3 separate regions of the Homo sapiens genome follow, and all the other regions are reported to be linked to region 1. Evidence: microRNA targets listed by miRTarBase, many of them from high-throughput screens and not tested one by one. Region 1 holds a microRNA gene; each other region holds the end of a gene's coding sequence.
Evidence for each region. The annotated mature microRNA hsa-miR-379-3p reads UAUGUAACAUGGUCCACUAACU and lies in region 1 at 2,266-2,287, shown strand. An mRNA with a match to its seed (bases 2 to 7 or 8) in the 3' UTR can be bound and repressed. Matches are read on the target gene's strand: a 7mer-m8 pairs with bases 2 to 8, a 7mer-A1 pairs with bases 2 to 7 and ends in A, and an 8mer does both.

Region 2: miRTarBase lists SYPL1 as a target of hsa-miR-379-3p. Seed matches in the 3' UTR shown: 7mer-A1 at 2,742-2,748 and 7mer-A1 at 2,442-2,448.
Region 3: the mRNA of JAZF1 is a reported target of hsa-miR-379-3p. Seed matches in the 3' UTR shown: 7mer-A1 at 2,458-2,464.

What each region holds. Positions count from the first base shown.
Region 1 is chr14:101,019,844-101,023,019 of GRCh38, forward strand. MIR379 (microRNA 379) reads left to right here and starts at 2,223; the gene lies at 2,223-2,289. LOC124903407 (mucin-2-like) reads left to right here. Exons shown (of 5, transcript XM_047432049.1): 5 at 1-3,176. The coding sequence ends at 961.
Region 2 is chr7:106,088,920-106,092,095 of GRCh38, forward strand. It overlaps SYPL1 (synaptophysin like 1), which reads right to left. Exons shown (of 5, transcript NM_182715.4): 5 at 1,586-3,020. The coding sequence ends at 2,886. Among named protein-coding and RNA genes, the nearest start is that of SYPL1, 22 kb to the right of the region's middle.
Region 3 is chr7:27,829,876-27,833,051 of GRCh38, forward strand. It overlaps JAZF1 (JAZF zinc finger 1), which reads right to left. Exons shown (of 5, transcript NM_175061.4): 5 at 702-3,101. The coding sequence ends at 2,925. Among named protein-coding and RNA genes, the nearest start is that of TAX1BP1-AS1, 91 kb to the left of the region's middle.

The DNA of each region.
Region 1 (3,176 bases):
GTCCACACCCCATCCAGACCACACACCATCTAGTCCATGCCCCATCCAGACCACACACCATCTAGTCCATGCCCCATCCAGACCACACACCATCCAGACCACTACTCCATCCAGTCCTCACTGCATCCAGACCTCAGTCCATCTATCTAGTCCACACCTCACCCAGACCAATCTCCATCCAGTCCACACTCCATCCAGTCCACACCCCATCAAGATCACTACTCCATCCAGTCCACACTCCATCCTGTCTACACCCCATCCAGTCCACACCCCGTCCAGTCCACACCCTGTCCAGTACACACCCCATCCAGTCCACACCCCATCCAGACCACACCCCATCCAGTACACACCCCATCCAGTACACACCCCTTCTAGTCTACACTCCATCCAGACCACACCCCATTCAGTCCACGTTGCATCCAGTCCACACCCCATCCAGACCACACCTCACCCAGACCACACCCCATCCAGTCCACACCCCATCCAGTCCACACCCCATCCAGACCACACTGTATCCAGTCCACGCCCCATACAGACCATACCCCATCCAGACCACACCTCACCCAGACCATCCACGCCCCATCCAGACCATACCCCATCCAGACCACACCTCACCCAGACCACACCCCATCCAGTCACACTGCATCCAGTCCACACCCCATCCAGACCACTACTCCATCCAGACCACACCCCATGTAGTTCACACTCCCCCAAGTCAACACCCCATCCAGTCCATGTTCCATCCAGTTCATGCCCCACACAGACCACGCTCCATCCAATCCACGCCCCACCTCGACCACTACTCCATCCAGTTCATACTGCATCCAGTCCATACTCCATCCAGTCCACTGTCCACCCCGACCATGTTCATCTGACCCATGCTCCATCCAGTCCATGCTCCATCTGGTCCTCTGCTTTTACCCTACAGTGTCCACTCTTGTCCTCTCTCTTCTTGGCTTAGTCCCCTCATCCTTTATCTTCTAATCTAAACTTCTGAGAAGTTTTCCTGATTGGCGAGAGCCTCTTGTTAAATGCTCTCTGCTCCTTCACAACACTTTGGCCTCCTCACATTTTGAAACCAATTCTCTGCAATAACTACTTTAATGTTGGTTTTCCCCACAACGCTAGCAGCTGCAGGAAGGCAGAGACTGTGTCTTATTTACTGGTCTAGCTCCAGCACCTCACAGATGTTCAGTAAACACAAGTTTATTTCTACGAGTGACCACATGGAAAATGTGAGTGGGCTGGAGGAGAGGTGCAGGCAGGGTGCTGTGGAGGGTCAGGGATGCAAAGGCCTGAGTTGGCTGAGGTGGGGTCGGGCTCGTGGAAGAACTGCCATTTGGTTGGGCTTCAGAGAGATGTAAGCAGACACGGGGTCTGGGTGGAGGAGTAGTGCCAGCAAAGGCATGTGGACAATGCACGGGGTATGGAGGGTAATCTCTTAGACTAGACTAGCTCACACTTGGAGGGAGCAGGGGAGCATGATGCCTTGAATGACTTCCTAAGGAGTTAGGACTTCAACAACTGAGTTGCAGGGCCCCGTCTACACTGGGGTTCAGGACTTTAGAGGACAACCGAGCTGTCCTGCAGGGCTGCTGAGGGTTCTGCCCTTGTCCTTTCCCTGGAGGCTAACAAATCATTGCTTTGCATTCCATTCACATGGGATAGTTGTGCCATGAAAGGGGATGGAGAAAATCAAGGAAGACCTCCTGAAGGAGGTGGAGAGGTTAATCAGGAGCTGGAGGAACGCACTGCCCACTCAGCTCTGTGGTTTGAGTCTCCAAAGGTGGTCTAGAGCATGGCGAGGACCATCGGAACTTGGGTGAGCTAGGGAAGTTTTTACCTAGAGGTTGAGGGTCCCCTTTTATATGATGAACTGTGCTCTTGGAGTGTCCCATTTGCCATGCAGAACAAAACACTGCCCTTTATCTTGATGAAGAGATAGTTGACCACATAATGGCCAAAGCATGGTCAGTATTGTACATTTTGCCTTGTCGCAGTCTTTCCAAGTTGACATGGCCTTCCTGGAGGAATTACCACTTAGGGTAGAGGCACCCCTTCCCCCATCAATGCCACTGCCCCACATTGGAGGAGGGGTTGTTTATGTTCACCATGTGCCTGCTTCCAATGCCAAATCCAGCCTCAGAAAGCTTTCTGGAAGTGACGCCAACTTCAGGGGCAAGGCCCTGGTTCTGGGGTCAGCACCATTCCGTGGTTCCTGAAGAGATGGTAGACTATGGAACGTAGGCGTTATGATTTCTGACCTATGTAACATGGTCCACTAACTCTCAGTATCCAATCCATCCTCGGAGGGCTTCCTGGAGGTGTTGCCAACTTCAGGGAAGAGAACACGTGGTTTAGCTTCAGCACTGCTCCACGGCAATTTCTGTGGCTCATGGTTGATGTCTGACTTGTGCAACAAGGCCTGGCTCTTCTGGGCACTAAATGCACTCTCTGGGGAGTTTTCTGGAAGTGATGCAACTTGGGCTCAAGACACCGGTTCCAGCCTCAGCCGTGGTTCTGGAAGAGATGATTTGCCATGTGGCCTGTGCGAAAGGAGGGATTTGTGTGAGATGGGCTACCACTTCCCAGTAGCCTGCCAGCTTTGGAGGGCTTCGTGGAGCCAATACTACCTTCAGGGGGACCCACCAGTCCATCCTTCATTCCGCTGTGTGGCATTGAAGAGTTGCTTTCCTGTGTTGAAGTTTTCTGTTTATACCAATGTCCACCTCTGATCAATCTTACATTCAGTCTCAGGGTTTTCCGGAGGCAGTGCCAAGTCTGGGAATGAGACAGTGGTTCTGTCCTTAGGGAGGTGGTTGACCAAAACAACTCCTGCTTTGTTCATGAAGATGGCATGGTGGTTACTGCTCAGAATCTAATCCAACCTAAGAGGACCTCCTGGAAATGCCCTTGGTATTGAGGCAGATATGGCCTTAGGGCACTTTTTTTTTTTTTTTAATGCCCAAGACTAGAGCTCACTAATAGGTAAGATCTGGGCCTCAGGTGCCCAGTACTGTTTCCTTGGCCTGGTTAGTGTAACTAGATGGATGTTCTTTGGTTGCACGTGGGCCATTTTGTATTTCTGATTTTCTCCCCACTCCCCTAACCAGCTCTGTTAGCCATGTGCCATGTCCTCCCTCCCATCTACCCACTCCTTCAGACCCAGCACAGTG
Region 2 (3,176 bases), not on the chromosome of region 1:
CAGGAGGACTGCTTGCGCCCATGAGTTTGAGACCAGCCTGGGTAATATAGTGAGAACTCGTCTTTACAAAAAATGTTTTCAATTACCAAGCATGGTGACACGTGCCTGTAGTCCCAGATACTGAGAAGGCCAAGGTGGGAGGATCACTGGAGCCTGGCAGGTGGAGGTTAACAGGGAGCTGAGATGGCGCCACTGCATTCTAGCTTGGGTGACAGAGTAAGACCCTGTCTCAACAAACAAACATCTGATGCAAATAAAGCATTTGTTAAATATTATTTTGTATACTTACCTATTAATCTGAAATACTATATGAAAAAATTTTAAATGTGAAACATAAGCAATATTGCCTTTAACATTTACAGTAGGTTAAACATCTATTCAACTGACCTCTGTTCACTAAAACATTAGTAATGCTCATCTTTTTTATAAATAATTCTCTACAACCTAACACCTAGTAAGTAAAGCTTTTATTGCTTCTCTCCTGGAAATTATCCTATAAATGGGTTAACCTTGTAATGTTGATTCAAAAGCACAAAGGGAAAAGGCAATAGAAGTCCTTTTAAGATCTACTTTAATCTCAATACTTTTAAGTTTTAAATTTTGATCTCATTAACCTTATGAATGTCAACCAACAGAAAAATAAAACACACCAAAAGATCCAGAACTCTTTAAGGATTGTAAAGGGACAAGCTTGAAAGCCTGACGCCAATCCTCTCTTTGTCCAAAACCACCACCCTAACGGCTCCAGCCCCATGAATTCCTAGTTTAAGAATCTCTATATCAGATGCTATCAAAAGTTAGTAATCGTAGCTAACATTTATAGAGTGCCTACTAAATGCGGAACACTGTTCTAAGGGCTTTACATTTGTTAATTCACTTTTAAATCATAAACACACTGAGATCAGGAAAGTGGTTTAACTATTCTTAGTTTCAGTTCCCCGTAGTACAGTACAGTAAGATATTCTGAGAGACCATATTCACATAACTTTTACTACAGTATGGTTTTAATTGTGCCACTTCATTATTAGTCCTTGTTAATCTCTTACTGTGCTCAATTGATAAACTTTATTATAGGTGCATGTATGGATAGGAAAAAAGACAGTTCACATAGGGCTTGGTACTACACTTGGTTTCAGGCATCCCAGGGGGTCTTGAAACATATCCCCAGTAAACAGGAGGGAACTACTTACTTTATTTCCGACTTCCACATAAGCAAACTGAGGCACACAGAGGGCAATTTGCCTACAGTTAAACAGCTAGTAAGTGGTGTAGACAAGATTCAAATCTAGGCAGTTCGGTTGCAGAGCACACACTCTTAAGCAGGAATCTTTGCTAGTTAATTAGACAATTAATGAGAAAAGGTATATCAGGAAAACAATCTAAGAGTTGCAAATAAGTATTTTCTAAATGAGGTCGGAAGAAAAAAGGATAGAACCATAGTCTCCAAAGCATTTCTGTCTGTTTTATTCCTTGCCAAACATTAAAACTGTGATTCTATTTCCTGCTTTGAAAATCAGTTCTGTTTTGCACTGCTCAATGCCTTTAAGATGAAGGTTTCTTTGTAATATTAACAATCAGTGCACTCTTTCTTTCAACTCCTTTATTAAATTGGTTGCAAAAAAGATATACATTCTTATATTGACAATTCTTGTCATGAATAAAAGCATCAAAAATAAGGCAACAGCAAGATGTGCTTCACATATAAACAATCATGTTGTAAGAATAAGAAACCTGAATCCCTGTACAACAAAAAGATTAGGAAGCAAAATGTGAATAAGCTTGTATTCAGAATATACCTATATGTGTGTGCAAAGACAATACACTCATCATATACCTCACTTAGGTTCCTTTATGATGCATAATTCCTTAATCATTCATTTGTGAAACAAGAATGAATATTAAGAAACATGAAATCCAAATTGCACTTATTTTCACAATATCAATGCTAAACTCAAAATAGCAACTTCATTGACTCTCAATGGTAAATTTCAAACATGGAAAGCAATCTTAATTTTTTTAACCCTTTGACTAGGGTCTGTAAAAAACGGTGGATTATTTTACTGTACTTACAAAGAGGCTGGGTCTCAGCCTGCACTTAAACAGCATGAGCAACAAAGGACAGGAAACAAATATCACTAAGAGTAATGCCCATACATATAAAGATATCTAGTTGAGCCACGTTCTACTTACATAGCAAGCCTATTAAACCACTAGCATAACAGATCATATCTCATGAAACAGAATTACTAAATTAACTACACATCTCTCAGAAATTTCCAAATCCCTGCTCCCAACACAATTTTAGTACACCTATTAAGTACCACGGGTCATTTAGAAAAACAGAAAAAAATATACACCTAGTCTTTGCAATTAAAAAAAAATCATAACATAAACAATGTTAGATATAAATTTTGAACTCAATATGTTTTTTCCTACATATTTATGTAATCAAGGCTCTTTAAGCAAAGACAGGTGGTAGGTATATGATCTGTACAAACTTACAGTAGTGTATATTCCAAATAAAGGTTTTTCTTCCTACTATGGTATGACAATATAACTGTTTTCTGAATGAAGATACATGTTAAGGCTTAAGGTGTAAACACTTTGGAAGGCAAACAGCTTAGTGAAAAAAATTATGGTTCATTTAAAAATGTGTATCATTTCATAATAGACCCCTGAACTTTCAAATTTACATGTGAGAATACATTTACATCTTAACTTTCTAGGAAAGGCACAGGCTTTATGTAAAAAAGCAGCAAAGTTTTAAACCCACCAATATATTGACAAAGCCATTACTTTTATTAGAAACAAATAATGCTTCTCAAGGTGTTGGCAACATGTCATAGTATCAACATATACTTCATACAGTGTATTTCTCCCTTTAATTATATTCCGGTAGGAGGTGGAATACCTCCTTGGCTATGAGGGGCAGATGTATTTGATGGACTGTGTAGGCTGGTCTCCTTGTACACAAACCAAGCATTTCCTCCCCAGAGTATCATATTTAGAAAGCCAAATATCTATGAAAGAGAAAAAGAAATATGAAAATCAAATACCTACTTATAAAAATTCATGCCCTACTTAAAAATCTCACTTTTTCTTTAAATATTTAACATTTTTAGGAAGTACGCCATTATTTCACTTAAAGTTTAATACTACACACAATGAGAAATAAG
Region 3 (3,176 bases), not on the chromosome of region 1:
CTTTTATAATGTGCGTGTGAATAATTTAAAGCACCAACTTTTGATTTTGCCGCTTTTGTAGTTATCATCAAAATAGTTTACATTTGTTCTGAGCAAACTAGCTATTGAAGATGTTAACCTAATATTTAGACTTGGTGGCATTTTGAGTTGCTATATGTGAACTGCAGCATATCATGTCGTCACTTGTATTTGTTTGTGGAAGCAGAGTTTGTATATTGTTAGAATCCTTTAAAAAGTTTTTTGAGTCTAGGGCAAACCAGTATGAGGCATTCATATGCCAGCTGTTAGGACACAGCAGTCCTAGGAAGCAATAGCTTTGGAGACTTTCAGCTTCCAGATAGGTTATATACTTAGGTAAAATATGTTCAACAATGGGAGCATTTTTGTTGGAGTTAATAATTATGGACCATGTTAATCCAAAAGTATCCTTGGAATATTTATTATAGTAGTAGACACTGTTCATCTTACTAGCCTAGAACTTATTTTAAAATAGTTTAAGTAAGTAAGTCCAAGCTTAATTTGTTATTGACAGAAAAGTAATACAGCCTAATCTAATCTAAGCAAAAATGTAAGGGAATAAAGTCTACATGCATCAACTGAACAGCCTTAGAATGAGGAACTGAATGGATATATTAATTTCCATGGTAAACTTGATACTGGTTTTCATAATGGACACTAAGGAAAATAAAGAGCCATATTTATTTTTGGGTCAGAGGCAGTTTATTTTAAATGTGATTTCATTTACATTTATAAGCAGCTTTTCTTGACAGGAATTTTGATTAAATTGCCTTCAGTTCTAAAACAAACCTCTGTTGCTTTCAGACTTAATGTGCTCTGTCCCCAACAAAACATATGAAAATATAATTTAAAGCACAGTTTTCACAGACACAGTACAATACATTCACTATACACAGTATAACAAAATATTCCCATCCTTACCTGTTTAGTAATACTGTCACAATGAATAAGTAAATAGAAATTGGAATTTATCTTTGAAAGCATTGAAAGAAATTTAACATGCACAATGACTATTTTATGACTGTTTAGCTGTTGAACTACTGATCCAGCCTGCAGTTTCTTGCACTAGAAAGAGCGAAGCTAAATAATAATTGCTGGCCTAAAAAATTTTTTTTGGTCAATTGTAGGTAGATATGAAATAGCCAAGTGGGGCCTTCTTATGCACCAACTAGTTGCGTCTCATGTCTGGATCACCCTTTTAAACATAGGATAACACTGTATATTCAGGACCAAGACCATACTTCAGATCTGAGGAAATTTTTAGAGGGCAGTGTTTTTATAAATACTTTGAATCCCTCATAATGAAGGATTTTAGAACTTATGAATATAGAGGTTTACTCATCTAACAAACAGAACTGTCATCCTTTCAAAATGTCTGAAAATTGAGGAGGGACCCCTGCTTCCCAGTTATATGTGATGTAAGACTTTTCATCAAATGGGAACATGGGAAGAAACTTTATAAGCAATTTGAGTTTGTTTTATGGGCAGTTAGCTATCTCAAAGCATTTTTTATTGCATTATTAGGCAACTGGTAAACTCTCGTGTTTAAGGAATAGCACTTGGGAGAAAAGAACACTCAAGGCATGATGGTACTGTCGGTGAGGAAAAACTTAAGGAATGGTCCAGATGTAGATTACTCTAATAGGTCGTATTAGTCATGCTTTTCTTTGACCACCTGCTGCAAGAAGCACTTAATTGTCAATAAGGCTCATTTTCCTATTTCAGCAAAGTGTTTGTTTTATAAAGCTAAACAGACATTTCCAATGAGAATGCAGACCTCTCTACAATGTGATGAGAAAAGTACCTTTTAAAAAAAGTAAAAAATGAGCATGAAGAAGAGGCAATAGGGGTCTTAACAAAAGTGTTCATCTTTGAAACGTGCTTAGAATTTTAGTTCTGATTTGCAACCCACAGGTTTGGTAGGGCAGTGGTTGCAAGAATTGGCAACACATAAACATTAAATTGTTGGCAATAGAGAACTACAAAGTGCTTTAAAACTTCATCTGAAGATGAAGATATAACTAAACTTCACACACACACACTTTGCACTGAAGTATTTCAAAGTCTTTTCTAACAGATTTCAGGGAAAAAAGTATTTCACTAAATGGGTATCTTGGTCCGCAGATATCAATAGGCATAAATTGAATCCCTTGTACCCAGCAGGCACTCAATCAATGTGTGTTAAATGAATGAACGAACTGAATAGACTATTTTGTACAAAATGCCATTTATAACACTAAAATGACTAGTAAGTCAGATGGCAAGATTTTCAGCTTTTTAAAGGGCAAAAGGATTTGCAAGATAATATAAAACACAGAAAGCACACCTTTACGTATGTTATTTAAATATGAAAATATTTTTAGCATATTATGTTAAACATTCTTTCTTATTTATATTTCCATTACCTAAAGTCTTTCTACTCACAAATACTAACTCCATTATGTAAGGCATGGTAACCAGTTTGATAATGAAGGTATTATTTTGGTTTTGAACATATGTGAGTTGATGTGTTGAAAACTTCAATCACATTACAATCTTGAAAAAAAAATCTCAGTGCCAGCCCCTCCTCCCCCCAGGTTGATACCACCGCAATACAATTCAACAATATGCAACATGCCCTCAATTTTATTTTGTTTTGGGGGAAATGTGCTGAAGAACCTAGAGCTTTTTTTGTTTAGCACCTTATATCAAAGTAATGAAAATGGGTATGATGATTACATGTGCAAATGTACAAAATCATTAACTCTACAAAGATACATCATTCCAAAATTACAGAAAAAATTTAAAGCATGCATTTAATTCTTTTTCTTTAAAGGGTTGCTGAATGCTTCCCCTGAAAAAAGGTGGCTGTTTTCAAAATCAGCAACTGCTGGTGAGGATTTCTTGGCACAGTTATGACCAGCATGTTATTGCTGCATCTTCCTGATAATCTCAGCCGACACCGGGGGATGGAAATTGATTGTGTGGTGCCGCAGGCCCTGAGCTGTCTTGTAACTCTTCCCACAGCGACACTTGAATGGTTTGCGGACACGAATCTGTGTTCTGTGACCATTCTTAGCGTGATACTTTATGCCATTCACATTCTGTGGAGAAGACAAAAATATTTATTACATGGATTCACAGGATACCTGTCAAACTTCGGAAACCTCAATTTGGGT